Regions from separate parts of the Homo sapiens genome. Here regions 1, 2, 3, 5 and 6 are each reported to be linked to region 4. The links are microRNA targets in miRTarBase. Many come from high-throughput screens and were not tested one by one. Region 4 holds a microRNA gene; each other region holds the end of a gene's coding sequence.

The links. The annotated mature microRNA hsa-miR-3924 reads AUAUGUAUAUGUGACUGCUACU and lies in region 4 at 3,547-3,568, opposite strand. An mRNA with a match to its seed (bases 2 to 7 or 8) in the 3' UTR can be bound and repressed. Matches are read on the target gene's strand: a 7mer-m8 pairs with bases 2 to 8, a 7mer-A1 pairs with bases 2 to 7 and ends in A, and an 8mer does both.
Region 1: miRTarBase lists OSBPL9 as a target of hsa-miR-3924. Seed matches in the 3' UTR shown: 7mer-m8 at 2,316-2,322.
Region 2: the mRNA of GNA13 is a reported target of hsa-miR-3924. Seed matches in the 3' UTR shown: 7mer-A1 at 2,346-2,352.
Region 3: miRTarBase lists UBR3 as a target of hsa-miR-3924. Seed matches in the 3' UTR shown: 7mer-m8 at 1,941-1,947.
Region 5: the mRNA of HNRNPU is a reported target of hsa-miR-3924. Seed matches in the 3' UTR shown: 7mer-m8 at 1,672-1,678, 8mer at 2,867-2,874, 7mer-m8 at 3,026-3,032, 8mer at 4,427-4,434, 8mer at 4,954-4,961 and 8mer at 5,522-5,529.
Region 6: miRTarBase lists PROX1 as a target of hsa-miR-3924. The part of its 3' UTR that is shown has no 7-base or 8-base seed match.

What each region holds. Positions count from the first base shown.
Region 1 is chr1:51,784,925-51,790,525 of GRCh38, reverse strand. It overlaps OSBPL9 (oxysterol binding protein like 9), which reads right to left. Exons shown (of 24, transcript NM_024586.6): 21 at 4,640-4,718; 22 at 3,909-4,000; 23 at 3,038-3,173; 24 at 1,307-2,811. The coding sequence ends at 2,737. NRDC (nardilysin convertase) reads left to right here. Exons shown (of 31, transcript NM_001101662.2): 30 at 869-958; 31 at 1,093-1,316. The coding sequence ends at 1,290. Among named protein-coding and RNA genes, the nearest start is that of MIR761, 49 kb to the left of the region's middle. RefSeq lists silencers at 1,703-1,903, 3,383-3,583, 5,015-5,309.
Region 2 is chr17:65,010,197-65,015,984 of GRCh38, reverse strand. It overlaps GNA13 (G protein subunit alpha 13), which reads left to right. Exons shown (of 4, transcript NM_006572.6): 4 at 1,156-5,788. The coding sequence ends at 1,728. Among named protein-coding and RNA genes, the nearest start is that of GNA13, 44 kb to the left of the region's middle.
Region 3 is chr2:170,079,992-170,085,779 of GRCh38, reverse strand. UBR3 (ubiquitin protein ligase E3 component n-recognin 3) reads right to left here. Exons shown (of 39, transcript NM_172070.4): 37 at 5,757-5,788; 38 at 5,096-5,235; 39 at 1,649-4,054. The coding sequence ends at 3,937. Among named protein-coding and RNA genes, the nearest start is that of MYO3B, 95 kb to the left of the region's middle.
Region 4 is chr10:57,300,943-57,306,730 of GRCh38, forward strand. It overlaps MIR3924 (microRNA 3924), which reads right to left and starts at 3,617; the gene lies at 3,537-3,617.
Region 5 is chr1:244,850,312-244,856,099 of GRCh38, reverse strand. HNRNPU (heterogeneous nuclear ribonucleoprotein U) reads left to right here. Exons shown (of 14, transcript NM_031844.3): 11 at 1-196; 12 at 492-676; 13 at 1,056-1,127; 14 at 1,597-5,788. The coding sequence ends at 1,650. It overlaps SNORA100 (small nucleolar RNA, H/ACA box 100), which reads left to right and starts at 1,883; the gene lies at 1,883-2,013.
Region 6 is chr1:214,035,681-214,038,680 of GRCh38, reverse strand. PROX1 (prospero homeobox 1) reads right to left here. Exons shown (of 5, transcript NM_001270616.2): 5 at 1-3,000. The coding sequence ends at 2,847. Among named protein-coding and RNA genes, the nearest start is that of PROX1, 49 kb to the right of the region's middle.

The DNA of each region.
Region 1 (5,601 bases), not on the chromosome of region 4:
GGTTTTCAGAGTAAGACAGCTCAAACTGGTCAAGGTTCCTGATTCTACAGGCATCACAGGTCTGTGCACACCAGCATTGTGTGGAAGAGAAACTCGAAACACTAGTCCTGGCCTGATTACTCGCTCACTTCCTGAGTTTTCAGACTGGCCTCTCTAGCACCTTAGGTGGCCACGTGAGCTGGGTGCTAATCCTTACCACACCACCACCAATTTCAATCAGAGCAGCTCTATTTTTATGCTATATATTGAGGTCTACAAGATTTTGTGGAGAAAAAGAGTTTTGCCGTTTAAAGAAAATTGAGGACTCTTTGTCTTTACGGAGTTCATTATTCCAAGTGCATGTGTTTTGACAACTTCTATTCCAAAGTAGTAAAACCTATGAAAAAGATCTGGATCTTGTACTCCAGTGTGACTTTGGTTAATACATAGCCCCTACATGGTGAATTACCATAGGACATCATTGCTCTGTGATGTAAAGAGGTTATTTAGTAAGAGGCTTCATCTTAACACATTTTAGTTTTCTTAATAGAAGCAAGGTAGATTTCCTCAAGCCGTGGTATGCAGCTACCATGTAATTGGGAGGTGACACTAAGGGGATGTGGGTGTTGGGCTCAGTGTATGGTATTTAGCTGTAATTATAGCATCTGCTAACCTCTCTTGCCATTGTAGATGATTGGTATAAAATGTGAAGGCATGCCAGAGAGCTTCATCATCGTTTTGGTCTGGAAGGTTAGGGGTAACCTGAGAATAGGAAGAATAAAATGAGGTCTTCAGATGCTAAGCAGGTCCAGGGACATCTGCCTGGGGGTTAGGTTTAAGAGCTATCTTTCTTCTTGAATTTCTTTCCTATCTTCCCTTCCCTTGTAAGATTGAAGCACTGAAGTCATTCTCAAAATCAGACCTGGTCAACTGGTTCAAGGCCCATAGAGGGCCAGGAAGTAAAATGCTCAGCGTTCATGTGAGTATGTTTAACTAACTCCATCCATTCTAGGGTTGTCATTTACTGAGTGAGTTTGGGTGGTTATCATCAGAACTCTTAAACCCCTAAATCTGGTCAGCATATTTTTCACTTTTGTCTTTGTCCTCTTTCAGGTTGTTGGATATGGGAAGTATGAACTGGAAGAGGATGGTACCCCTTCTAGTGAGGATTCAAATTCTTCTTGTGAAGTGATGCAGCTGACCTACCTGCCAACCTCTCCTCTGCTGGCAGATTGTATCATCCCCATTACTGATATCAGGGCTTTCACAACAACACTCAACCTTCTCCCCTACCATAAAATAGTCAAATAAATAAACTGCAGTCACGTTGGCCTGAAGCAATGTGTATTTTAAAATGTGTTTGTTTGTATTTTATGGAGTTAGTTATACTACTGCCTTAGGGCTTCCATTGAAGTTTTGCACTGGCATCATAGCATTTGATTTACTTTTTATCCTTTGTTGAGACTAATAAACCCAGGGTTACTGTAGGAGCTGGCAAAGGAAAATTAGCAGAATGGGCCAAGCGAGACCAGAAAGCCTGCAGCAGCACTTTGAGAAGCCCTGGCCTGTGTCCTCTCAGACTGAGAATCTACTTCTTGAAAGGCCTTACGTAACCAGTATATTGAATAACTAACTAAATGCTAGGTACTAATACCTGTTTTTTTAATGTATTTTTAAATAAAAAAGATGATAGATAGATAGATAGATATAGTTCTGTATTTCCCTTCAGAATGAGCCATCTGCTGCTGTGGCATTCATTTTATTCTATCTATCTATCTATTTTTGTTCACTGTGGGGTGGGGATCTATAAATACACACTCTTCCCAAACCCTCTAAGGCAATAAAACATTTTTGGATAAAATGTTGGTAGGCAGCCCTACATGTGCAATATGAGTTAAGTGAAGATTCTGGGGAATTGCCTGGCAGGGGCTAAAGACAGAACATACAATCTGACAGAGGAAAAGAATGGATCCTCCATTATTTCAAGTGTCTTTCTTTGAAAAGCTAGCTCTTGTATTCAAGGTTGCCAAATAATTGGCTTCCAAGTTTAACCATAAAAGATAATAAAAGATGCACATTTTTAAAAAAAAGGTTGGAAAAATTACTTTATGAAGCCTTAAGCACTAAGAATAATTAATTAAACTGTAATCCAGGATTAGATACAATTTAATAATAGTTCAATTCCAAAATAAAAGTTATTGTAGGTAAGACCATGAAATTTCCTAACACTTGATTTTAATACATTGCGCTAATTTTCTAAAACAACTCAGAGGAACCCATATTTACAGTAGGCAGAATATTTATGAAAAAAATCTGGCATCAGGTATATTTATATATATGTATGTGTGTGTATACGTATGTGTGTGTATATATATGTGTGTGTGTGTGTGTATCCCGAGATTATATGAACTAAGAAACAAGTTGTGTATCTTAACAGCAGTACTAGAGCGCAGAGTTTCAGACTTGGATTTATAAATGCTTTCAACGTGTGGTGTTTGGAAAAGGAGAAGACATCATCTGATTTTCAAAACCTGAAGTTTTTCTCAGGACTGAAGTCAAAATCGTAACTGCCACAGAGGGAAAAGGGAAGCTTTTCCCCTTAATTGTTCATCTGCGTCAGAAAGTCCAGTATCCCTGAGATAGGAACCACTGTAATTAGAAGATTGGAATGAACAGGTTTCTCCCAAAGGAAGATTGTTTGTTGCTGAATTATGCCTACTGCCCTGATCATCAGGTATAAACTTTGCATCTTCCAACCTAATGCTTGGCAGCACCAAGACGTTTCAGTAATGGTTCATCATAAACCCAGCATTCTCCATCTTCATGAAATAACTGTAAGACAAAGAGGAAGAATTTAGTTACATATTTGCTTTGTACTTCTGTAATATACTTACTATTTCATATCTGCTCCCCACCCCGCCATTAGACTGAAATGAGTTTCAAGTAGGGACCAGCGATCATCTTGTTTATAAACAGTGTTTGGCACATCACTTCTTCAACATTCACTGAAATAAATTAGGAGGAACAGCACTTAGGAGGGTGGGGCAGGCAAGCTTACCCTTGTCTCCCACTGAATTTCCTTCTCCTTCCTTTCTCGGGCTTCTGCTCTTTGTCTTTCTTCAAGCCTGTGCTTTGCTTCAGTTGCTGCATCAATGTCTCTGATTTTTAAGTTGAAAGTGACATCCTTCCAAAGGCTAAAACAAAGAGGTAAGAGGAGCTGCCAATGTTGAGAATGAAAGCCTGCAGCCATCCTGAATATAGTATAATACAAGTCAAATGGCTTTAAGTGCTGTAGGTCACAGACTAAATCTCCTTACGCTGGCACCAGGGCACTGGAGTAAGGAACAGACATATGGGCTCAGAAGACTCCACTGCTAGTTGTCAAAGAAGGAAATAAGGGCTGCCTGATAGTATGATAAGGTCAACAGAAGAAAAAGAATAGTGGAAGCTGAGACCTGGGATTCTACTTCTGGCTCTATGTCTAACTTACTGTGCAACTCTGGGTCAATCAGTTTACCTCTGTAGGGCTTGAGTGTCCCTTAATATATACCTGTAAGTGTTAGAGGAACTGAGAAGTTCCATTTCAGAAAAACTCCCTTGGATTTAACAATATGATGGAGAAAATAGTATGAATGGAGAGAATAAGGGTCAAGAAGTAAATTACAGAGGCTTTAAAGTTAGTTAAGATGTGGCTTCCTCTCAAGGCCTTTATTCTCATTTCAGGAAAGAAGGTAAAGAGAAGTTAGCTGACTGAGCCATCCATGGTCACAAAGGTAGTAAGTGGTAGTTCTGACATACGAACCCAGGAATTCAAACTTGGTCTATACTATTATGCTCTGCCCTACTGTCTCTCAAACCCAGCCCTGTGCCTACGCCTAGGCAAAGTTTAAGCACTGCAGCAATAGTTCCACTTAACAATGTCGGCTTACCTGCGGGATTCATACTCGTTCTGATCTTCCAACTTCCTCACTTTCTTCTTGATTATAGGCAACTTCTTGGTATCTACAAAGACTGTATTTTCCTAGAAAACAATAGAGGTGGATGGGAACTAGACCCATAAACCCCTAACCTAATGTTAGATGCATTGTAGTGCTTTTGACACTTCAAATTCTCTAGGTCCAAAATGCAGTTAACTGGCTCCTCCTGTTAATTTCATAACATCTTTCCTCTGTTTAAGAACACTGAGTGGGCAGTAGTACAGAGTGCAAGTTCTTTGAAGGAAAGGTCTATCTTAACTCATTTTGGTATCTCTGGTGCCAGGCAGTCAGTAAATTTTATTATACAAAATCTTCAACTGTGTGTGTATGGAAACACACAGTTTAGTGCTTCATTTTATAAACATACGCCACATACCTAACATTTACTGGGTTCTTACTATGTGCCAGGCATTGTTTTACATATATTATTCTCAAGTGTTTTGAGAGCAGAGAGAAAAGTAAAAATGATTATAATTACCTATACTGCTGGGAGAAGGTGGGGGAAGGAAAGAAAAAGCTTGCCCTGAAGAGATGACATACACTGGAGCTGTCCTAAAGTTCCAGCTCTAATATACTGTAGAAGGAAATGCATTATGAAGGAAGTACTAATGAAGGAAGCCAGAAAAAGGGATAGAGTACAATCTAATGTAGCCTAAAACAAGTGGCAAAATAGAGGATCTTACCCCTGTTGCATATTTTGCATACATCACACCATTCCATTCCCCTTCAATTGAGCAAAAAGACTTCTTGTCATTTGGAGAACTGAACAGAAAAGGAAATACTTGTGTTAGTCTCAAGTTGAAAATTCTACCAAAGAATCTGCTCAGTGTGGCCCAACTACAGAGTAGAGCACAGAAGAGCAACTGTGAAGTTTTTGATGAAAGCATCTTAACAGAACTGGACTCCCCAGGGCTAACTATAAGAATGAGGGCCTTCAACAGGACGCTTATGAACTTGAGATCCCAAGAATGGTGGGTTTGGGCAAGAACGTCCTATTCTGGGTGCAAGGACCATAACAGAGTTGGCAAATTCCCTATCCTCAAGCTGTTCACAGCGTAGTGGAGAGAGACGTAACCACCATTGAAATTCTAGGTGGTAAGTGCTGTGGTGAGCTTACATGGGCACTGGGGGTCAGGGAAGGCTTTGCTTAAGAATATAATGCAGGCTTTCATCCTCAGGTTGAAAGGGACCTCTGTGCCAGATGGTGTGAATACTTTCCCTGAGCAAGGATCCATTCTGCAAAAGCCGTAACAGACCTCTACTTGGACACACAACTATGGAATGTGAGAAGATAAGCAACACAGCAAAGGCCTGGTTAGGAAGGGCAAGGCATAAACAGGATTGAAAGAGGCCAGAAAAGGGAGACATGACCAGGGCAGAGGGAGGAGAGCTGCTATCAACGCCTGAAACTTTCTTTCCCACTGTCCCCTTCCCCCCCAGTTAAGGGTTCCAGAGGCAGAGAGAGTCATGGTGCCATCACTATAGACTTTCCACTGACTGGCACAGTCATCTGCACGTGACCCAAGAGTGTCAAGTGGAAGCAAGCCAGATGCGTGCAAAATGTGATGGTTACTGTTTTTCCCCAGCAAAGGCACAGAAAAAGGGATAGCTGTGAGGACCAGGAGGCAGTGCTGCAGGGGTCACA
Region 2 (5,788 bases), not on the chromosome of region 4:
AACCCTCCCTCCCAGGTATATAGACCAAGTGTGATCACCTCCATTTCACAGACAGAGGTGCTGACACTCAGAGTAAGTGACTAGTTTGAGTTCTTGGGTCAATAAGTAAGAAATTAATTATAGTAGAGAAAGGATTTTTCACACATGTAATATAGCAGCAATGAAAACATAGAAGTTTTAAGTCATGAGTGGGGTTGCACAGTAAAAGAACTTTTAGAATAGGTTAGAGAGAGGTGGGCAGAACTTGGAACTGGGAAGTGATCCTTGTGAATTGGCACTGGAATCAGATCCCATTGCCTTTTTTTTTTTTTTTTTTTTTTTTAAGACAAAGTCTTGCTCTGTCACCCAGGCTGGAGTGCAGTGGCATGATCTCAGCTCACTGCAAGCTCCACCTCCTGGGTTCACACCACTCTCCTGCCTCAGCCTCCCAAGTAGCTGGGACTACAGGCGCCCGCCACCACACCTGGCTAATTTTTTTGTATTTTTAGTAGAGATGGGGTTTCACTGTGTTAGCCAGGATGGTCTCAATCTCCTGACCTCGTGATCTGCCCGTCTCGGCCTCCCAAAGTGCTGGAATTACAAGCGTGAGCCATCGCGCCCAGCCCCCATTGCTTTTAATAGAGGAGCAAGGAGCAGTGTGGAGAAGGTAGATACGCAGACAGGAAGATCACTCTGGCTAGAACCAAGAGTGGCTGATAGTGGGGAGTAAGATTGCAGGTGGATATATAGCAGTGAGGGTGGGTAAGAACAATTGATAAGACTTCAGCTTAAATTTTGAGTAGTATTGCAGGGATGAAAACAAGTAGATTCTGGCCATTTGTAGTAAATTTTGAACCCGTCCTGCTAACATTTTAATGTATCTTGGCTTTTGTTGTGGGGAGCACAAGTGGGTCTTGCTATATTGCCCAGGATATTCTCAAACTCCTGGCTTCGCAAGCGATCCTCCTGCCTCAGCCTCCCAAAGTGCTGGGATTATAGGCATGACCCACCATGTCTGACCAGTCTTGGCATTTTATAATAAGCATAATCTATCTGAAAATGTCACTTAAAAGATCATTTTGTTTGCATATCTATTCACTAGTCCAGTTAGTAGTCCATTAAAAATTCGCATTACTTCGGGATTAATAGGTATAAAACAAGTTTTTTCTTTTCCAGGATTATATTCCATCACAACAAGATATTCTGCTTGCCAGAAGACCCACCAAAGGCATCCATGAATACGACTTTGAAATAAAAAATGTTCCTTTCAAAATGGTTGATGTAGGTGGTCAGAGATCAGAAAGGAAACGTTGGTTTGAATGTTTCGACAGTGTGACATCAATACTTTTCCTTGTTTCCTCAAGTGAATTTGACCAGGTGCTTATGGAAGATCGACTGACCAATCGCCTTACAGAGTCTCTGAACATTTTTGAAACAATCGTCAATAACCGGGTTTTCAGCAATGTCTCCATAATTCTGTTCTTAAACAAGACAGACTTGCTTGAGGAGAAGGTGCAAATTGTGAGCATCAAAGACTATTTCCTAGAATTTGAAGGGGATCCCCACTGCTTAAGAGACGTCCAAAAATTCCTGGTGGAATGTTTCCGGAACAAACGCCGGGACCAGCAACAGAAGCCCTTATACCACCACTTCACCACTGCTATCAACACGGAGAACATCCGCCTTGTTTTCCGTGACGTGAAGGATACTATTCTGCATGACAACCTCAAGCAGCTTATGCTACAGTGATGTACAAAAGACTTGCTGTTTTAATATCTTTTTGTGTTTTTGATGTTTTCTGTTTGTTTTGTTTTTTAAAATAGCAGTTTACAACCAGAATTAGAACAATCTTAATTCTACGTTTAACTTCTTGAAAATCTTAGTACTTTTTCTGCGGCCTTTGGTTTGTGGCTGAAAGCTGTTGAGTGACTCATCGCCAAGATTTGCTGTAATGCAGGCTTTGATCTGTTTCACCATGGCTTCTATTCAAGTCCAGTTAAAACCTCCCAGCTGACCTCAGACTAGGCATATTTCAGGCTTTAAATTATTCTACTTTCCAAACTGAATTCTCCTGCAGTGCCAAGTATCAAAGGTGTCCTTAAATACTTGTAGGGATGAGGTTAGGAATATTCAGTTCCAAAACAAGATATCTTCTGTCCGCCTTACATATAGCAGTGACACTTGTTGCCTAACTTTATGGTGACCTCCTATTTTGTAAGGGCTGTTAGAAGTTCTATCTAAGAAATGGCATTCTGTAGGTTTATAGAAGGTTTAGCCTTCATATTTTAATTGCTTGTATACACAACAGCTGTTTTGCTTTTAGATTTCTGTGTTTCTGAAGGTAATGTTCTTCCTGTTTTCAAGTTTACATAAGGATCTTTGGTCTGATGCTGATGAAGAGTTCACAGGTGGTATGGGAGAGCAAAAGGCAAGCTAATGCTGTTTACCGTGTTTTGGTCAAACGTAACGAGTGAAATAGAATTTGCCTTTCTCATATTTAATTATCATGTAGTTTAATGTACCATATGTGAAACATTCTGGCCATAGCAGCAACTAAAAACTGCAAGCAACTTGGTAACAGAACTTTCTAAATAAACTTAACCTGTTCCAGAATGTCATGTATTTGACTTTTAAGCCCTATCTCAGTTGGTCAGTAAAGACCAATCCTTACTGTAGGAAATCATTGTTGTATCATCACAAACATCTATCTTTTGCTGTCCTGTCCAGTCCCATCAACTCCACACTGTGCCATTTGTGGCATCGTTTTGTTTATTTGGAGTTTGCTAAGGGCAGTATTTTTCTGTCAAGACTATTCAAGAAGGCATTATTTGAGATTCCTGTTCATTCTTGGTGTGTCTCTAACAGATACAGTATGTATACATTTGTATAATTGTTGTTGTTGAAAGTCCAGCTTTTTTGAGGTATATTTTAAATGTTTTAAGGATGCTTCTAAGGATCAGTAGTAATTTTTTTAGTTCGCACCTAAAGATGATTACATTGACCTCCCCCGACTGCTTACCAAATTAAAATGTGTCCACGAAGTAGCTTTGTGATCGCAGATACATTCATAGTGAACTCATCAGAATGGCTGGTTTGCAGTACTGAAATACTATCTTCTAGGCTGTATGTAGTGCTACAATTAGAGAAACAGAAGTCCAAGGCTGGCGACAGCTTGAAAAGTCTGACAGCTTTTCTACTTTTCCTGAAAATTTTAAGACTGTGATATCTGTCATTTTACTGTATAGCTGACTGTGTACTCAGGTATTTTATTGGTCCTTGAAAGATTGGTCGTTATGGATCACCCAGCCTTTCCAAGTCAGTGGCTGTTGTTCTGTCTTGCTGTCTGATACGAGAGTGGGGCTTTTCAGTGAACTAACCAGGGATTGTTCTTGACATACCTGACTTTTCTCACATTTGAACTTCCACTATCATTGTATCCATATAACTTCTAGCATTTTCATGCCATGGTAATCCATGAGCTACACATACGTAGCCCGGCACCGTGATGCAAGTTCATGGTATCGTGCATGTTCGTGGTATCATGGTATCATTCATGCGTGTTTGAATAGTTCTACATCTAGTGCTTCTTGCCAAAAAGAATACATTGTTTAAATTCACAAAATTAGCATAATTGCAGTGCTAATGAATATCGGAATATGTGCACAGTAACATTTGGACTATTCATTGGAGAGTTTACCCATACATTTAGCAAATTGAATGGCCAAAACATTTGACTCCAGTGAGGGCTCAAGTTAGATCCCTATAGAAAGAGGACACTTCATCTTACTTAAGTCATAGTTAAGATCTGTGATACGAACCATAGATATTGCCTGACAAAGCAGAAATCACCAAGTTTCCCCCTTTTGAATTACCACCAAGAAGTGTTGAAACACCAAATAGATATCATGTTATTTTGGGCATTTGCAGTTTTCTTCCCTGCTGCATGTAATGTCTCAGAATCAACATTCTTTTAAAATCTAGACTATATTTTGAGGCAATGAATTACTTATATTCAACTTAGGCTTGTTTTGACATTCAGTAGAACTTTAAGTTCAATCTAAAGGCTTCAGTCCACATTTTTTTATACGTTGTATTTTAAAAACGTTTGAAAGGAGTCTTACACCTGTATCATGAAAACTGAATCCTTTTGAAATACCACTATATGAAGAGAGAGATGAAATTTAGTGAACAGAATTGAAAAGGTGCTCATAATTTCACTATGCAAACTTACCCCAGTCTCTAAAAAAGTAATTTAGATTTAAAGTTCTTTGATGTATTTGATTTTCTAAATCTTTATGGTTATGATTTGGAATAAAATGTGCCTAATCCTGTGTTACATTCTGTTCTTAAATCTGAATGCCTTCTCATTTAATTCTGAGGAAATATCACACAAGTGTCTTCATTGACCTTGAAGAAATGTATATACAGTTGCCTTATAAAACAACATAAATTTAGACCATAACTTTTATAGAGAAAGGGTTTTGTCAAATGTTTTCTGAAAATCTGAGTAATTCAAAGCATGCCTCTGCCCCTTTAATATTTTTAATAACCTGCATTGTTGCTGTCTGCCAAATATTAAATTGAAATCTTCATTTCAATTTTATTATCTGGAAAGGGCACTGGATTGCTCTGCAACCAAAGAAAGCAATATGGAATGAAAAAACTCATTCACTTTTGTCTTATTTTCTTTTAAGGTGTATTGGCATGTAATTTGCATAGAGAAGGTCCTCTGGTTAGTCTCTCAAATTGAGGCTGTTTAGGGAAATCCTTATTCAGTTGGTGGCAGTGGTTGGTTTAAAGTAGAAGGAAATAAGATCGCCTTAATACCAGAAATGATTAGAAGTGCTGATTTAGATTCAACAAATACCATATGTCCTTATCATTTTTTGTAAGAAGAAATTGGTTAAGTCCTAACTTTCAATGTGTACCCAAATACTTGTATTTATGCTTTTGATAAAATGTATTTTCAGCATTAATACACATCCGATTATGCCTTATTTATATATGAAGAATAAAGTTACCATGTTACACTGTTATGTCCTAAAATTCAAATCACTATTTGAGAAACCCTCAAATTGGTGCTTTCATTATATAATGATACATTTAGACAAAACCCCAAACTAAGCCATTTGAAACAAGATTCTCTCCATTGCAGTTTGTAGCAATGTTATTTCTGTGTATGTCATGAGAAGGCTAAATATCAGTGTTAATTTCTTGTTTGAATCCGTGAAATCATGCCTGTAAAGCCCAAACATTTGTAACAAACTCCCTAATAAATTTAGAGAAAGTCACTCTGTTACCATTTCATTTATTTTAGTTTTATTTGAGAAATTAAGACCAGAAGTTTTGCTCATGTCTTTTTCACTTGGAAATCTGACTTAGTACCTAGTTAATTTGTCTCTCTCCCATCATTTTAAGGCGTTCGCTTCTGTTAATCACAGATGATCTGTCCTTGTGTTGTGCTGCTTGACTAAAAGCACTGTTTTGTTTTGTTTTGTTTTGTTTTTTAATGATAGGATACAGGGTGGCTTTTCAGTCTAGTAAACATGAGGAGGGGAGAGATTGTGGGTGGGTGTGGGTGTGTCCGCATGTCCCAAATACAGCACATGCCCATTTTTTTATGGTACGAGGTTAGGGCTTATTAATAAATGTATACTAGATCTTGAAGTGTAAGTCTAAGTCTGAACATTTTAAACAAGTTGGACTTTATGGCTTTTTCAAGTTCCATCAAGTAGATACTAGTCTTAGGCTGGTAGGTGATTAACAACATCATTTGGAGTACAGTGTTTGTACCACTAGCATTCTTATG
Region 3 (5,788 bases), not on the chromosome of region 4:
CATTGTCTTACTAAATCTTATTGTGTCTTCCAATCCTACGCCCCTACAAATCCAACATGAACCCCACACTCATTTCAACCAGCTCCCCTAATTCTCTTAACTTATATTGCATCCTTTACATTTTGTATCCGTGTCTCCAAACCCCAGTTAATTTAGCAGTCTAATTTCTATCCTTCAGGTCCTAAGCTGCTAAACTCAGGGGCTCCACAAAGTTACAGAATCTTTCTAACTGGCTCCATTAAACTTAGGTTTTCTAACCCCACTTGGCTGTCAATATAACTTCAGTGGTGCTTCCCCTTATTTCTGGCCTGTTCTCTCTCCTAGCATATGTCTAAGCTTTTGCCACTTATCTCAAGCCCCCAGATATGCTAGGCCTGTTCACTCTCGGTACATGATCCTGCTCCTTTGTCACCAAGAGAAGAGGGAATCAGACACAAATCCTCTTATTTTGCTCTAGACTTTCTTTCCTTTTCTCTTGTATCTTTTCCCCTCAACCTGAAGCTTTTATCTGTGCTCTTGACCCCACTCCTTCTGGTCTGCTCTTGGGCTCTACCTCACTGATTTTGGTACTGTCACATCTTACATTAATTTAACTTGCACAAAGGCAGCTCTACACAAGGTTCCATTGTGTGTTTTCACTGTGTTGCATCAGCTGAAGTCACATTCATTCCACTACTTGTACTGTACACTAAGATGGCAGGTCATAGCTCTTCCATACCTGATATGCCTAATTAATAGGGAGCTTGAAGTGTCATAAATAGAGAAGTGATCATGTTGCTGTTTTGCCCACTCCAGCTCATCCCTGTTGAACTAAGCAGTGCTTGATATCATCTAGCCAGATCATAAGGCAGAGGAAAGAACTATGTGCTGTGAATGGGACTGAGACACAGTCATAAGTCATCTGCTCTCCCACAATCATCAATCATCAGGCATCCTCACCAATGAATTCATCTTCTCTCGGTGATTTGATTCTAGTGGTTAAAACCATGCTTTGTGTCCCCCCCAACCCCAAATATGATCTCAAATATAAGCCATCAACAGCCATTTGAGAGTCAGCAATTAGAATCCTGGAGATAATACAGAGAGTCTTAGACCACATCTCTTCCCATATTGCTGTTTCCTCTAAGCCTTCAGTGCTTTTAGTCAGCATCTTTTTCTAAGTCACAGAAATCAGTAAATATCGGAATACATAAAACAGAGAAAGGTCTGAAGAGAAATGGACTGCTAGCTGATAAATGGCTGGTGAGCTTCAGGATGGAGAGGTAGGGGTGAGGACTGTCAATTCAAACAAGAATGCAAACCACTCAAAATAAACATTCTCATAAAGCACTAAACATTTCTGAAGTCTGGCTGGGAACTTTCAGAAAAGAACAGAGATCACAATTCCTCAGATCTACATACCCATTTCCTTCTCCCCCTACCAAACACACACACTTAGCAAAGAATGTGCATTGATTATGAGACAAGGACTGAAGAAGCAAGAACTCACTCTGCAAATAAAAGAAAAAAAGCAAAGCAAACCCTTTACACTTACTCCACCCTAAAGCAACTACTAATTATGTTGTGCTTTGATCTTTTCAGCCATGTTCACTCACATATATTACTGTCAATATCTTTGGGGGAAAAAAAAACATGTAAGCAGTAAACATTTTAAGGACCTTTCACAAACCAAATGACAGCAGGTTTTTATTAACATATCTTACAATGTTGATTATTCCTAGTTTTGTAATTTCTGCTTAATTATAAAGATCAATTTAGCTTCTACAGTAATGTACTGTATTTAAATGATCATTCATACAAGATATCACACCAGTACATTTTTTTGAATAATATACACACATCACTCTAACTTGGACCTGTTATTTTTAAAAGTGGGTTTATAAATGGGACTTATAAAAGTTATGGGGAAAAATTAAAGTTCTAGTTTAGCAGCATGCATGTATGTATTCAAGTACAATTTTCAACCAAGTGCTTTTTTAAAATTTACTGGTGACTAATTCACCAATATCAAAATAAACACTATCAAACACCCAAATTTTAAAGTTAAGGCTAATATTTTCACTTCACATCCATATGCACAACCATAAAACATTCCATTTTAAATAAGTAGTAATCAAAGTCTGAATACATTATACCATGTATATATAGCATCAGAGTTTCAAACTGTAGAATTATTCAAGTTCATGAATCCTGTAACAGTATTTACTAGAGATGTCAATTAGCATTTTGCTCTTCAACCACACTTACAAATGGTCTGGTATTCATAACGATCAATGCAAAAAGTATGACAGGCTGAACTTATGATACAGTATTTAAAAAAGTAGCAATGTGTTGGAAAGGACAGCTATTTAGTCGAACAGAATCATTGACTCTTACAGAAAGTTATCTTAATATTTTGGAAATGTATATAAAAATAGCAAGCTATTTCCATGTATTTTATTGTAGAACGATAGGTAATCTTTTGACTTTCTGAATACATTTGAATATGTACTGCTCTGCTTTCCATATTTTAATGCAAGGCCATGATTTAATGTCCATTTTTATACTCTTGTAATGTCATGTCATTACAAAAATTTTTTAGAACATGGATCTGACATATTTTATCATTAGATTTGTTTAGTTTATTTTTACATGTAAAAATGTAATTTTATATAACAAGCCATGGAAGTCCAAAGTACCAGGGATTGCTTGATAGCACTATATATTAAATAATCATTCAATTACTGAATCATTTAGGAAAAAAAATCTTTGTAGCAATATGTCACATGCTTTTCAGTAATCTTCCTTCTCATAGAGTGGGTTTTAGCTCAATCATTCCCATTTTTACTGATTTTTAAACCCTGCAAACATAAATTGTTTTTCACAGCAGTTTCTAAGAAGAATGCAGAAGCGTGGCTCATTCATGAGGGTCATCACCACTGCGCCTTTTTTTTCCTTTTAGGAAACCGAGCAGAAATAGTAGTGATTACACTGCACAAATACAATATAGCTGAACCTCTTGAGCTGAAAGGAAGTTCCAAAATTTATGGTTCATTTCTGGGGAAGTCTGAGCATTTCTAATACAATCATATAAACAAAACCTTGTTTGGTAATAAAAGGTGGGCATGCACGGAATCAACATCTGCCCAGTGTATGTTCTTAAACCTCTTGATTTCATAGTAAGATTTGTTATTACCTCTAGTAATTCATCCAACTGAAATGGCAAATTTTGATTTTTAAGGACCCCCCAACCACACATATGCCCCCCAAAATGTACTGTATTATATTAACAGCAGCTATCTACTTATTTTACAGCTATTTCAATTATTTACCTGGGGAGAAGATTTATGAAATTCCTGAGAATGAATTCAGTTTTCAGCAAAGCTTTAAACTTTTAACAGATTCCTCACAATAAGAAAAAATTTTAAAGTTCTACTATTAGACCAACTTTTACTATACAGTATTTCACATAAATCATGTTTTACATTTTTTTCTAATTACATACAGAAAAATTCTCCAATCAACACAAGAATGGCAGAGGAAAAAAGATGCATTATGCTTGGCAGATGCAAATTAAAACACACAGACAGAAAGAAGCAGTAAAATGTCAAATAAATCACACCCACTCTAAGTATCAATGAATAGCTGATACGCATTGTTGGGAGAATCATTTCTGAATGAGTTTGTGAACAAGTTGTGCTTCTTATTAATTGTGCACTTAAAAAATGACCACTAAAGAATAATTTAACTTGTTATTAATGTTCTCCAGATATTAAAAAAAAAAAATTATACCATTAACGTGATTACCAAGCACCTAATTTTGGAAAGGCTTCATAATGTATGTTTTCTTTTTCTCCCTCAGCAAAAGTGTTAATCCCCCAAATTAAGTTAAAGCTTATTGTTGAAAAATAAATTCGTAGCGAAAATGATGATACGATGCAATGCTGAGGTGGAGAGTCACAGCCCATTGTAATGTGGACCCCATCTTTTATTGATGTGATCAAAAGTATGAGAAATCCACTGTTGCTCAAGAACTTTGTATCTTTCCTTACAAATGTAGAGAGGTTTGCCTCGCCTAGAACAAAAAGAAAAAAAAAGTATTAATATCATACACGGAAGATTTCACATGCATTTCTTTCTTCTTTTTTTTCTGAGACAGTCTCTCGCAGTGCAACCTCCGCCTCCTGGGTTCAAGCAATTCTCCTGTCTCAGCCTCTCGAGTAGCTGGGATTACAGGTGCTCACCACCATGCCTGCCTCCTTTTTTTATTTTTTTATTTTTTATTTACTTATTTCTTTTTTGAGACGGAGTCCCACTCTGTCACCCAGGCTGGAGTGCAGTGGCACGATCTTGGCTCACTGCAAGCTCCGCCTCCCGAGTTCATGCCATTCTCCTGCCTCAGCCTCTAGAGTAGCTGGGACTATAGGGGCCCGCCACCACACCCGGCTAATTTTTTGTATTTTTAGTAGAGACGGGGTTTCACCATATTGGCCAGCCTGGTCTCGAACTCCTGACCTCAAGTGATCCACCCACCTCGGCCTCCCAAAGTGCTGGGATTACAGGCGTGAGCCACCACACCTACCACATTTCTTTTTTTACTAGATTCTTTTTTGAGACAGTCTTTCTCTGTTGCCCAGGTTGGTGTGCAGTGGCACGATCACAGCTCACTGCAGCCGCCACCTGCTGGGCTCAAGCGATCCTTCCACCTCCTCCCGAGTTGCTGGGACCACAGGTGTATGACCACCACACCTGGCTTATTTATTTTTATTTTTTTGTAGAGATGAGGTCTCACTATGTTGTCCAGGCTGGTCTCAAACTCCTGGGCTCAAGCAATCCTGCTTCAGCCTCCCAAAGTGCTGAGATTACAGGTGTGAGCCACTGGGCCTGGCCAACGGATTCTTTGTGGCAAAAACCTCACATGGTAATTTGGTGTATTTCATGTTTCCTCAACGTATTGATAGGGACAATAGCTCAAAAACTAGAAATAGCTCTAAATTAATGACTGTCAGAATTTCTTAATATTAAAAAAATTGTAATTACAAAGCCAGGAATAGCATATTGGTTTTCACTGACCAAATTTCAATAAAACACCTGGATATATCCATGAACATCTAACCTAAGATCCCGGTCTTCCTCTCCATGAGCATCCAAATACACGGAACCCCAGAGGCAGAAGCGGTGACCTCGAATGATGATAATTACCGATGCATTGATCAAAAGGAAAATACCTGTTCCTGCACCACAGTTCTGAGAGTGCTAAAAAATTAAAAATATATTAATGAACTTCATAATCAAATAGGCTTTATAATAAAATCAAGAATATATTAATGCCTTCTAAATAATACAGTGATTTAAAAATAGTAAGATTTCATTTAAGTTAAACTTATAACTCCATTCCTAACACTTTATTATTAATACATTAGGAGGTATTTGGGTAAGGAATATCTAGTAAAGCAATTAAGAGCCAACCTAATTCAGAGTCTAGTATCTTCAACAGCACAGATGACTTCTGTTTCACAGCACATTCCAAAGTACATACCATTAAAGGGATAGTAGATGAAAGGAGAACTAGAATTGTACTTAAGGAAGGATTTACTCACTTAAAGCCTCAAAGACTTTCTTTTTTTACTCTTCTACTGGATTAAAAAACACACACAATCCCTATATGTATTATATACTTAATTCAAAGAGTAGTTAATATGAAGAGATGGCTTGACCATATTTTGTGATATGAGATCTGTGTTTTCATAAATTTTGTATTATCTACTATTGCTTACCAGTACACATTCACAGTAACTTTGTTGCTTGC
Region 4 (5,788 bases):
ATACACTGTTGATGGAAATATAAAATGGTATAGCCATTATTACAAACAGTTTAATAAATTAAATAACTAAAAATGTAACTATCATACAACGCATAAATTGCATCCCTGAGCGTTTATTGTGAGAAATTAAGACATATTCACACAAAAACCTATATATGAATGTTTATAGAAGCTCAATTTGTAATAACTCAAAATTGAATATGACCTAGTTGTCCTTCAATAGCTGAACGGTTAAACAAATTATGATGCATCCATATCATCAAATGATACTCAAAGGTATAAAGGAAGAAACTTTTGATATACATAAAAATGTAACGAAATTGCTACAAAGTTATGCTGAAATGTAAAGAAGCCAATCCCAACAAGTTATGGTTACACGTTGCGTGATTCCTATTATATCACTATTTTTTTTTTTTTTTTTTTGAGACAGAGCCTCACTCTGTCGCCAGGCTGGAGTGCAGTGGAGCTATCTTGGCTCACTGCAACCTCCGCCTCCTGGGTGCAAGAGATTCTCCTGCCACAGCCTCCCAAGCAGCTGGGATTACAGGCACCCGCCAACACGTCTAGCTAATGTTCGTATTTTTAGTAGAGACAGGGTTTCATCGTGTTAGCCAAGATGGTCTCAATCTCTTGACCTCATGATCCGCCCACCTCAGCCTCCCAAAGTGCTGGGAGTACAGGCATGAGCCACCATGTCCCGCCCATAACATTCTTGAAAAAACAAAATTATAGAAATTGAGAACAGATTAATGGTTGTCAGGGTTTATGGAGGAAGTGAAAGTGAGAGAGAAGTAAGTGTGGCTACAAAGAACATTATGAATGGAAATGTGATGGAAATATTCTGTACATTGAATGTAACAATATCAATATCCTGGTTGTCATCATTGGAGGAAACCCAGTCGATTATACCCCACATCTCTCTGTATTATTTCTTATACCTACATGTGAATCTACAGTCATTTTAAAGTAAAATATGTGATTCAAAAGAAAAAAAAAGGTAATGAGTTGAAATTGCATGCTTTGGCCAATTAACACTAAATTATAAGTCCTATTTGATAAAATATGATTCAATTAGTAAATAAAGCACAGGTAAACTTTAGCAGACTTTTGGCAAAATGTGAAATTTGAACTTTACACATTTCGTTTGACCAGAGAAATATTTTGAAAAAGAAGACTGCATTAGTTTATTATGGCTGCCATAACAAAATACCACAAACTGGATGCCTGAAACAATAGAAATTAATTTTTCGTAGTTCTGCAGGTTAGAAGTCCCAGAACAAGATGTCAGAATTTTTTATTTCTACCGAGGCCTCTCACCTTGGTTTGCAGATGGTGTACTCACGTGGCCCTCTCTTCATCTCTGTGTTGTCTACCCTAATCTCTTCTTATAAAAACACCAGTCATATTAGATTAGGGCACACCTATATGACCTAATTTTACCTTAATTACCTGTTTAACAGCCCTGTATCCAAATACAGACATATTCTGAATTATTACGGGTTAGTGCTACAACATATGAATTTTGAGGGGGACATAATTCAGCTCATAACAGAGACCAACATGTAGAAATTAAGGAATTCCAAATAAAAATGTAGGTATCTACGTTATTTTTACAGCCTGCAATTAGTTCTAGCAACAATTGGTAGTACCTGAGAAATAAATCCCTGCTTCAAAAGCACATGCACACGTGCACTCAAACATCTGTAAAATTCATGCCACACACACACACACACACACACACACACACACACACACACACACTGTTGTCTTCACACCTTTATTAAATGACTGGCTTTTGTGGCATTGAGCTTGTGATGTCAGGAATAAGGAATCACATAGTTTCTGATGGAGTAGGGAGGGAAAAGTCAAGAGAAAGACTGAAAGGAGATGTGTGAGAGCTCCATAAACAAACAGCCTTCTTTATAATTTTGTGAGCAATACTCTTCAATTGTTTGGAAGCAGAAACTAGCTGGTTTGCATTTGCAGAGAGCAGACAATTTCTCCCTCAAAAGATTTTAAAAACGTTGTATCAAAAATGAATTAGTCTGTTATTTCAATCTTTCTTTTTTCTTCTTTGTTTGATGAGGAGTTGACTTCTTTTTACCAGGCTCTGTCCTCTCAATTTAGTAAGTCTACTTATGGCATATAGTGCACTGAACTGGTTTATTGAGAGCATTTCTATTATCATAAATAAATGGTCATTCTTAATTCAAACCATTAAACCAGGTTGGCAACCATGTCATTGTAGTTTGTGCATAAAAATATTTTGCTAGGTGAGGACAGCCAATTCTTTATTAGCATGAAAGCTACAAAAGAAAAAAAAAAGATAAGTGACAGGTATTTCCTTAAATGCAAAGCAAAAGTACAAATTCTACACAGTACAAAATGGAGAAGGGATATGAGATGTGAAGAAGCAAACGATAATTTTATTTTACACTGGAGCATAGAGGGAGCTTATTGACAAAGGCCTGGGGTTGTATTTGCATCCTTGCAGTACACTATTTAGTCGTGAAGATTTACTTAGTGGAAAGTCACTAACCAGCTTATTAAAAGTCAAACAATACCTGGAAAAAAATTCATGTATGCCATTGCAATTACATAAGGCCATTTTATTTATAAAATAAAAAATTTATAAAGCAAATAATGAATCAATATAAAAATAAAAGTTTATATTTGCACCGTGTTTTTATTTCTGTTATACCAGTTGATTTTAGTCTAATAAATTTATGAGGAAAATTTAAACAAAAATGTGTTTCCCAAGAACGTTTATATTTGCCTCTACCAAGTGGCCTCTGTGTTTCCCAGTAGGGATGCTGACTCAGCAAAATCAGCATTCATGACTCTAGTTGTCCAATATAGGGAGACAAAATGGCCAATTTAAGTCATTGTGCTTTGTCTTTCTCTCACAGACAGACAGACACACACGCACACACAAACACATGCACACAAAGAAATGATAAGGTTCAATGAAATACTCCATACATTTCCTTCAATTTTACTTTATAATTTTATAATTCTAAGGGTTTTTTTTAATTAAATGATCTTGTCCATATAGGGCACTGGTAAATAAAGTAAAGTCTAGAGAAATCACAAATGCAAGTTGAACTAGAATTTTGTTTAGAGATTTCTAGGGTAATAAGCAGATGAAGTAAATCTTTTCTTGCATCTGTGGCCCCCAAAAGAAATAACTTGTCACTCTAAATTATCTTTGAGACAAAACAAATTTGTCAGCTATAGTTGTCAGAAAACTGTAAAGTGATGTACTTTAAAATAAAAATTTTAACACCTTTTTCCTCCCTAATCTCCAGATATATTGGAAGTCATGAAATTAAAATGCAGTGTTAGGATAATATTTGCCTTTTTGGTAAATATAATTTATAATCTTAAATTCAAGTGTTAAATATTGAGTCTTTCCTTGGCTTTAGGATTAAACAATAGGTGATGCCAAAATATGAGAAAAGCATCTTCCAAGGTACAATTGCATATCTGTTACATACCTGCATACATAGAAAAGAGAAAGATAGGGGTAAGAGAATTAAACAAAAAAGTAGCAGTCACATATACATATCTGTATATATGACATAGATCTGCATATTTGACTACTACTTTTTCATTTATTTTAATTTAAATACATATTTATGTACACATATGTGCGCATACATGTATCTCTCTGTGTGTATCTATATATTTGTTTTGGAAAATATCAGGTTCAATCAGTTTAACCAGGTTTACTTTTCACAGGACATTTCAGAGTATTTAAAAACTATACTGCATTAAAAATCTCCAGGAAATGATGTATGTGAAGAGCTCCAGAGTGTTGTTTCTCATAGAAAACTTTTTTCATAGAGAAGTTTTTTCATAGAAACATTTTTTTTTAATTTCCAATTTTTATTTTAAGCAGGGGCACATGTGCAGGATGTGCATGTTTGTCACATAGATAAACTTGTGCCAGGGTGGTTTGTTGCACAGATCATCCTGTCACCCAGGTATTAAGCCCAGCATCCATTAGCTACTCTTTCTGATCCTCTCCTTCCTCCCACCACTCACTCTCCAACAGGCTCCAATGTGTGTTGTTCCCTCCCATGTGTCCATGTGTTTTCATCATTTATTTCCCACTTACAAGTGAGAACATGCAATCTTTGGTTTTGTGTTCCTGCATTAGTTTGCTAAGGATAATGGCCTCTGCCTCCATCCATGTTCCTGTGAACTCCTCTCTAACTCATTCTATGAGGCCAGCATCATCTTGATACCAAAACCTGACAGAGATGCCATAAAAACAGAAACCTTTAAAGCCAATGTCCTTGATGAACATAGATACAAAAATCCTCAACAAAATACTGGCAAACTGAATCCAGCAGCACACCAAAAACCTTATGCACCACGATCAAATAGTCTTCATCCCCAGGATGCAAGGCTGATTCAACATACGCAAATCAATCATTGTGATTCATCACATAAACAGAACTAAAGACACAAACCACATTATAATATCAATAGACACAGAAACTTTTAAGATGTCAATCTTCCAGAGTCAGTGACTGTCTCTATTACTTGGGATTTGTAGTTAATTTGTTTCTATTCTTACTAATTTAGAAAACACAATTTCAAGTTCTTGCAAAACAAAACACCTGATGTTTTTCAATAATTTTGTTTGTACTATGATGACATGCAAGAAACAAAAAATAACAATTTTCAAAAACCCATTTAAATGCTTTCATTTGCTAGAGTTTACTTCTCTGGAAATTTCATCCTTCAAGACAAATGAGAACCAGAGAATAAAGAATAAAGTTCTCCAAGTAGTCAAATAAAATAACTACAAGCGACGTTTACAAAAAAAGTAATGGTTATACATAATTCTTAGGTGGGCCATTTAGACAAGGAAAAGTAACATCATATTTTAATCTCTTAACTCACAGACACGTAGAAATTGTCAGTTTTCTGGAAATGGAGGAATAAGAGAACTGTCTCAAGAAGATAGGTAGGTCCACTGACAACATTGTGAGGTGCCCTAAAGATAAAAAGAAGTAATACAAAGCTGTCCAAGAAAACATAAAAAATCAAAGTATAATATCTTGGACTAGTTAGGAGATAAATTACCCTCAGTGTTATCAAAGAACAATAATCAATATTGTAGATATGTTTATGATTAAAACTACATTGTCAAGTAAAAGTTGAAATTCATTTAAAACATTTTATAAACACAGGACAAGTTAGACAAGCATGGACTCTACATGGAAACCCAGGTCTAATTCACCTTAAACTCCTTCTAGATTTGACCATTAGACATTAATGACCTCTTAAAGCATCAACCTCCTCATCTGTAAAATATCCATAATAAAATATCACCAACATTGGAGTCCTGGAGAAGATTAATCATTCCTTGGTTCCTAGTGTGTGCTAATAGAAACTATTATGCCTTCTATTTCTGTTACAACTATTACCAGGGAAAAGTACACGGAAGTTTCATTAACAGATTTATAACATATTGTTAATAAGAACAAAATTCCCAAACTTTCTTTGTTGAAAAACAACTCATTCTCTCATTTACGCTGTGTGAATCACACGTGAACTCAAAATGTTTTTTTCTATTTTCTCACTCAACAACCAATAACATGCATAGGGGACTTTTGTGACCAAATATGTGTTTGTTTTTTTTTTCTCTCACACACCAAGCAAACAATCAATTCTGCAGTGGATAGAAGCTGAGTCTCCTCCAATTCAATTCTGGCACTATCTACCTAAAGACAGCATCAGATCTCACCAGTTGAAGGCTCAGTCCCCACGACCA
Region 5 (5,788 bases), not on the chromosome of region 4:
CAGAAGGAAGAAGCCCAAAAACTCTTGGAGCAATATAAGGAAGAAAGCAAAAAGGCTCTTCCACCAGAAAAGAAACAGAACACTGGCTCAAAGAAAAGCAATAAAAATAAGAGTGGCAAGAACCAGTTTAACAGAGGTGGTGGCCATAGAGGACGTGGAGGATTCAATATGCGTGGTGGAAATTTCAGAGGAGGAGGCAAGTTAATTTTGAGTGTTCTGTATTTAGTTCAGGATCGAAACAAGTGATAATTTTATAGTTTGGATGTAGCTGAAGTTTCTTCCTCATTAATGGTATACTGTCACAGTAACTAAAGTATTCATGTGATTTGATATTAAATACACCTAGGTTATGTTAATGGTTAGAATTAAACATTTCTTTTGTCTTTAAACAATTATTTTTGGAGAAAAAGGAACAATCTAGAGGAATCCTAAGTCTTCTGTATAAGTAGGGTACAATATACAATGAAACTAAAACAGCTCTTGTCTTTTAGCCCCTGGGAATCGTGGCGGATATAATAGGAGGGGCAACATGCCACAGAGAGGTGGTGGCGGTGGAGGAAGTGGTGGAATCGGCTATCCATACCCTCGTGCCCCTGTTTTTCCTGGCCGTGGTAGTTACTCAAACAGAGGGAACTACAACAGAGGTGGAATGCCCAACAGAGGGAACTACAACCAGGTAATGATTCAAGATCCCTGGAAGCATGATTGATAACTGTAGCTTAGTCTGGAAAGGTGTGAGCTTTATGTTGGGGTGTCTTAGTAATCCGTAAGGAACATGATAGGCATTGACATAAGGAAAATTGAACTAGTAATGGTGAAATGAGTCTACTTACTTTTGAGTTTTTTCAGGTGTACTAAACAAGTCAGATGCATTTCTCATAATGAATAAAAAATTAAAACATAAGAAACCAGCAGAGGGTATCCAGAATTTGTGTATTGCTTGCTACCTAAGATTAGGGGCTAGCAACCTGTCCATTTCTGCTCCTCTCTCTCACCCCCACAAACCTAACAAGCAATTGGGCTCAGAGCTCTTAGAGAGTATTTCCTTTTTGTAGAACTTCAGAGGACGAGGAAACAATCGTGGCTACAAAAATCAATCTCAGGGCTACAACCAGTGGCAGCAGGGTGTAAGTAATTTCTTATGTGCTTTATGTACATTAATTGTATTTTGAGTTCCTAAGATTTATCAGTCTTGAAAAAGATCTTGTTCAGGGATTGAAGTGTTTATAAGTGTTAATAGGGTAAAGTGTGAATCGTCTTGCAGTAGTAGCCATAATCTACCTTTTGAAGGCAAAATAGGTTGAAGATTGCTATAAGTTAAATTTTTTTAATAAAGTAATATTATTTAATATATACAGTTCTTTTACTGCTAGCTTTAATTGTGTAAACTAACAAAGTCATGATGTTTCGTTTTGTAATGTGTATTGATAATTATGGGATATTAAAACTAAATCTGGTTTGGTAGAAATCAGAGGTATGACAGGTATAAATTTGTTTCCAGCAAATTACTCTGAATTAGATTCATTGTCATTTCCTAAAAACAGTTTGAGTGGCTTATTGATGTTTTTTCTTTAAAAACAAAATTTTCTCTTACAGCAATTCTGGGGTCAGAAGCCATGGAGTCAGCATTATCACCAAGGATATTATTGAATACCCAAATAAAACGAACTGATACATATTTCTCCAAAACCTTCACAAGAAGTCGACTGTTTTCTTTAGTAGGCTAACTTTTTAAACATTCCACAAGAGGAAGTGCCTGCGGGTTCCTTTTTTAGAAGCTTTGTGGGTTGATTTTTTTTCTTTTCTTTTTTGTACATTTTTAATTGCAGTTTAAAAGTGAATCGTAAGAGAACCTCAGCATTGTGCACGATAAGAGAATGTGTCAGTATTTCAGGGTTCTACATTTTATCTGTAAAATGTGACTTTTTTTTTTTTTTATCACAACAGAAGTAAAATGTTGCTTTGTACCTGGTGTCTTTTATTAAGAATTTACTCCCCCCATTTCTCACAGAGAATAACAGTCGGGAGTCATTGTCACAATATAATAGAAATGTTAGCAACCAGATTCATGTAAGGACTAAGTGGTCCTCATGAATTGCATTAAGACTCTGTACTGCTCATATTACACTCCATCCTCTCTGTAGTTTGCTGGGTAGTGGAGGGGGTAAGCTAAATCATAGTTTCTGACAATAACTGGGAAGGTTTTTTCTTAAAATAACAATGGAATTGGTATAATTGGGATTGAAAACTAAAACTTGGAACTAAGATAGAGAAGATGGAGTGTATGTAGAAGGGCTGTTAAAAATGTAAAACTTGGTTGCATTATTTGTGGAGGCTCAAACTTGTGAAGGTTAATACCATAATTTTTCCATTTGTTCTGCATTTTGATTCTGAAAAGAAAGCTGGCTTTGCCCATTTCTTATTAAAAAAACTTGTTGTAAATCCAGTTGTCTAATGGGATCTATATGAAGTTAGCCATGTCTGTATGCCCTTCTCCCACAAAATACTGTATAACTAGTGTGCTTGTAGTAGTTAACTCCACCATCTTTGTAAGCTAATGAAATTGTGAGTCACCCATTTATATCTTAATTTTTAATCATGTCAGTTCTTGAATGGGTATCTCCTTAGCCTGCTGATTTCTTTTTCTTTCTAAAGAAAGTGGGTGGAGAAATTAATTTAGACGTTTGTTTGCAATAAAAAGAATTCATTTTACTCTTGTTTTGGGATTCTCGCCATCAAGGTTCAAAATCCCTTTATATAACTCCCAAGAGGAGAAATTTATTAAGTGTGTGCTTTCTGGACAGCTTATTCTTTACTCTGCATAGAACATTTAGGTTTTAAAAACTTAAATGTATACTGACAATTGATACATAATTATGAAGTAAAGTTGAATTCTTCCCTTCCCCTCCCCCCCAGACAACTTTTAACATATTTAATGAGGGGAAAAGGTACTGGCTGGGAGAAGTTAACACTGAGTTTATCATCTTTACAGAATGCTAATGCTGTCCTCAACTGATTATTTTATATACATATATATGATACATGAAACTCTGGGATCAGATGCTTTTAGAAGCCATCATGCAAGCCAGTCATTGATGTCACTGCTACACAACACTGCTAACTTGACTGTAGCTATGTAATAACATTAGATCCCCTAATTGTAATTATATTGGGTTTGCACAGAACACTTTAATCTTCCCCTCACCAATGTGAAGTGAGGAATCAGGAGTCAAACTGTAGAACTAAAATTTGACTTCAGTCTAGCGTTTCCTTGGTGTTTTTAGGTTGCTTTGGTAAGTTTAGGTTTGCTATATTTCTGATTGCTTAGAATTTTGTTTTAGCCCTTTAAAATCAGATCATAAATATGAATTCATACTTCTAAGGAATTTTCTTGCTATAAGCTGGAGTTTAGGTGATGTATAGGTTCAGTTGAGACATTTTTGGAACAGGCAAATCCTTAGTTAACATAAGATATTTAACAGTTGAAGATAGTGTCATGGATTTTTATCTTTTTTAGCAAGTAATGCTAAGAACCACTGGCCTGAGCTACTACTCTTCAGTATACATTATTAGGATTGCATAGACTTACTAGAGGAACAGTTTCAGGTTTTGATGCTAATCAGTGTTGTGTCCTAAAGTTGTCCTTTGTGCCTTTAAAAAGTTTTGGATATATCTTCTAGTTTAAAATTGCTTATTAAGGAATTCATTTTATAATTGCAGTGGGAAAGTAATGGTCAAGTAACACTAGGTAGACTATCATGCCTGTTTAGCCCAGAGAATTTGGGGGGAGAGAGAATAGATAAAAATGGCACCCAGAAAAATGTTAAAATCTTTAGTCAAGACTAGAATTAATACAATTGTCTACACTTGTATGGCAGAAATAACCTTATAAAGTGTTTAAGGAATTCAGAGAAGGGAATGTACCAAATAAGCAACAGGGAGAAAATTAGGTAAGAAGTAAGATACGAACGAGAAACCTGATTTATTGCTCATCCTTCCCTTGCCTCCCTAATGGCAAGCAAAACTCTGAACATCTGAAAAGGATGTAGTTCTGGACAAATCCTGACTACCCAGAGGAAACTCACTGTGAGATTGCTGTTGATTTGAAGGGTGCTTTCACTAAGGTTATATTTTAAAGTAGAATAACACATGCTGAGTGTAAACTGGCTTTGGATTGGTCAGCTGCAGTAGTACAAAAACAGCATAGAATTTGAGAAAACTAAAACTGCTATGAGATAGCTATGAGAAAACTAAAACTGCTATGAGATAGAAATGATGTAAAATTATGTGGAAAGTTTTCCCTCATATACTCACATACAGCCTTTGAAGGGCTCTGGCTCTGACCGGTTGATGGCCTTGAGCGAGATGAAATCATGAAATTGAGTCAAATCAATTTGACATTGAAATGACAAGAGGAAACTCTTAAATACATAAAAACAAGCTCTCATTTGCCTAGGATAGATACTGTCTTAAAAATAAAGACTGAACCTAGATGTTCTGAGCACTAGCAACAAGGTATTTTAACAAGTTTAAAGGAATTCTCTGAAAAAGTTATAAAATTATTCTAGGAAACATAACCATAATAGTGTTTTAAGGGACTTTCACCTGGGGATTTTATATTCATGAACAGAGTGTATTCTGTATTTAAAATGTCTCATTTGTGGGAATTGGATGACATGTTTTTTGATAAATTTATTCACAATATAAATTGACTTTTTATTCTAGGACCATGTGAATAATGGGTTCCATTGCACAAATACAAATATTTTAATAGCTTCTTAGGCAGTGGTGTAGACATCTTGGATATAAATAATTGTAGATCTTGTATATTTGATTTTTAAAAAACTAGAATAAACAGAGAGGCATAAACATATCTTAGAGTCCAAGTGGTAGTGTTTAGCATTGGATATAATAAATGGATGTTTTACAAAGTGTTTCCATAATTCTCTTCCTATACATAAATGTCTTGTTTTCAAAAGTGGATGGAACTTGGCTGGGTGTGGTGGCTCACGCCTGTAATCCTAGCACTTTGGGAGGCCAAGGCGGGAGGATCACTTGAGCTCAGGAGTTTGAGACCATCCTGGGCAACATAGTGAGACCTGGTCTCTTGAAAAAAAAAAAGTGGATGGAACTTGTAGCAGAGAATTTTATCTACTTCTCAACCTGCTTCAGAATACCCATTTGAGATGTTCCCCTGGAAAGATGAACACAATACTGCATCTGAAGCCATTTCTTCCCACCTAACATTCTTAAAATGATTAGAGTCTAAACTTTGTCATTCATTCCTAATTCTGGAGCTCTGAGGTTGAGGTGTTCAGAGTTTGGTGAATAATTGGGTTTAAGTTTTAACATTTTAGTAATAATAAAAGCAAACACATACATGTTAAGGCCTGACAATAGGTTGCAATACCCATGCATTGGGACTCATACCCAGCATAAATGGTGAGGGACTGAACATTAGTGCTTTGAGCAAGAATTGGTTAACTACCTGAGATCTCTAAAACAGTAATTTGAATTACTAATACATAAACCACAAGTCTCTTCGAATTGTTAATTGCCTAAATTTACCCTAAAACTTAGTTAACGCTGCAGTGCCTTTATTAAAGCTTTTTTTTGGGGGGGGGTGTGGGCACAGCTACTCCATAACTTTAAATTTTAAAGCATGAAGGTGATCTAGCTAGTGTTAGTGCTTGAGTTGGTAGTTACATAGGCTGCTCTTGAATCGTCCTGTTTTCTTTGCCTAGTATTAGCACCACAGGTACATATTTGTAAAATAAGCATTAAAAGT
Region 6 (3,000 bases), not on the chromosome of region 4:
AAACTGGTATTTTGAAGGATTTTTTAAAATCCCCCCCGCTGGTGCATTTTAGGTCTAGGCACAGACTATAACCTCAAGCGTATACGCAAAAATAATTTAGGGTTAGCAGAAAATAAGTGGTAGTGTGGTTTTTCAACATGGACTTTAGACTTTTTTTTTTCTTTTCCTATGTAAACTGTCCCTCATCCTTCACCATCCCACCATAGAAAGTTAACTTTCTCCCAAGTAGCCAATTTTCACTTGGTGAGAGTTGAGCTAAGATTTGAAAGATGGTGATTAAAAAAAAAAAATCAAACTGTTAAATAGGAATTTGGAGAGACAGGCTTTTGTCATTTTCCAATGCACTTGGGAGGCACAAGATTTCGATTGTAAAAGGGAAAACCACCGGAAAGCATAGTGATAAAGTTCTATTTTCAGAACAAAGAGGTGAGTTTATCCTCATGCTGCAATTTCTACTCTGAAATAATTTCTATGCCTCAGTGAACATTGAGAGGATATTATCAGTAGATAAGGGCATCAACATTTGGTTGTGAACACACACTTTTGCTTAATTTGTCTATTTAAATTAGAAAGGGAGGGGAAAATAATACTAAAAAAATCCAAATAAGTCTGGAATCAATATTGAACTCGCCCCAGATCAAAAAGATATCTAGCAATCTGTCTACATAGGTGAATACACTACAGCTTTGCCTTTTACCTTGCAAATGGCAACACAAAGTTGATATGAATTACACGGAACAGCAAAAACCCAGTGGCACACTGACACGAACAAGGACTGCCATCCTCTTTTAAAACAAAGCCAGTCAGAAAACTGTGACTACAAGTTGGGATTACTTCCCTATTTTGTGCTGATGGAATTTTTCCTTCCCACTTTATTCCAATGTCATGATTATCCAAACTGCTTTTTTTTAAAGCAAGTGAGAAAAATAACAAATTGGATCTAATGACTCTGTGCATTAGTAGAGTGTGAGCTGGGAGATGTGTGAGGCCGCGGGTGCAGAGTGAGGTGGCTGGTGCCCCCGCCCGTGTGGCTGCACCCTCTGTCTACACTGCGAGGCCCTGTTAGTCCCCTGGATGGTGCAGGGCATCATAGGACTGCACCATTTAATTTAAAGTCAGCAGGTTTTAAGGCTTTGTGCTGACAATAATTGAGTTCATACATTCCTGTCCATCAGCAGAATTTATAAATGACGTTAAATTACAGCGATCGGGTCAGCTAGTCAGTCACATGGGTCAAGACCTGTATTCTCCAAAGTCAAATGTAATTCTTATTAAAGTTGAATTAAAAAATGGCATTTATGTTCTATATGTTCTAAATACCAGATTTGTTACTGTGTCATTTTAGGAGGTGTATATCAAATTACCTAAGGGGAAGGAAGGGTCTGGAAAACAGTTTTAGGATGAACAATGAATTCTTACTGCATCTGGACACAAAAACCCACCTAAGAAAAAAAGTGTGAATGCCATACGAGTTTTTTCAATGCAAGTAGGGAACACTGTACATCATTGAAAAACAGGGAAAAATAAAAGGGAAAAAAGAGGAGAACCATGGAAGAAAGCATAAAATAGCAGCTAGCTTTCTTATGTGTGCTGGAATTGTGTCTTTTGGGTTAACCCCAAATTTTCCTATGCTATACACTCTTCTCACATTTTGGTCAATACTAGCTTCTGAATTGGAAGAGGCATTATCAATTGCTTTAAAATGTTATACCTAAAATGAAGAAACACTGAGTTAGACTGTCACCACTTTGCATACCCATCAGGATAGTGTGGAATTGCTTGTGAAAATATATGTGTTCCTCTTAGGAGATGACGATCAAGTCAGCTAATGGCTGTCAACAAACTTCTAGTGTAGGCAAGAATTTTATGGCCAAGTTGGGCTTTCCTTTATTCCTTACTGGAAGGAAGTATTCAGAAAATAGTATTTTAGGGGAAAAAATTGTTAAGTAAACAGAATCCTTTTAAGCATATAAACAAAGTTGAGCAGCGTAAATTGGAAACTTAGTGCCTTTTAGTATCTGAAGCAAAAATGATAACAAGTTATAGGATTTTTCTTTATGAAGAATGATGTAAGCTCACTTATGAAGAAGAACCTATTTTCAAGTTTAGAGAGGTGGCTACAAGACCAGGTATGAATTTCTAGTCTCATCTTGAGAGAGCTGGTTTTGTGCAAAATTGCTTTGCCTCCAGAAGAAACTGGTACGACTTTCAGAGTTTGCCTCTTTTCTTAGACAAGGCTTGAGAGTGATTATTTTTCTTTTTTAATTTGGCCTTTTGGGGTACTTTGGAAAAGTGAGCTGCTCATCTGTCATTGGAATTATTTTTAAACATGTAAGGAAAAGCTACTGATTGAGTTCAAACCAAACAAAATACTTAAATGTATGAAGTGGTTTCATTAAATTTTCAGACCTTCTTAGCAGTAGAAACAAGAGACACATCACTGTCTGTAGAGTTGTGCTGTGTCATGGGTTTTCCTCAGCCAACCGCCATTTGCAATAAGTCATCAATCAAGTGGATGCATCGTTAACAAATTCCCTTCATTGCTAATAGAGACTTTACACACGCCAACATTCTTTTTCCCTGAAAATTAACCCTATTTTAAGTGTCCAAATGTTAAGGGCCTTGGGCAAAAGCAAACTAAAGGCAGAAAGAAAACAACCATCCCCTTGCAATGGAAAACAAAAGAAAATGAGAGAAACGTGATGAGGAGGAATTACCAGCTGATTTCATAACATATCCATGCCTCCCATACACATATATATGAAATCAAAATCTAGACACATATAACTTGGACATCCAAAGGGGACTGCTACTCTTCATACATTCAAAAAGAGTTGTTGAAATTTCTACTCATGAAGCAGCTCTTGTAGGCAGTTCGGGGATTTGAAAATCTCAGGGACTTCACTATCCAGCTTGCAGATGACCTTGTATATGGCCTTCTTCCAGGAAGGATCAACATCTTTGCCTGCGATAATGGCATTGAAAAACTCCCGTAATGTG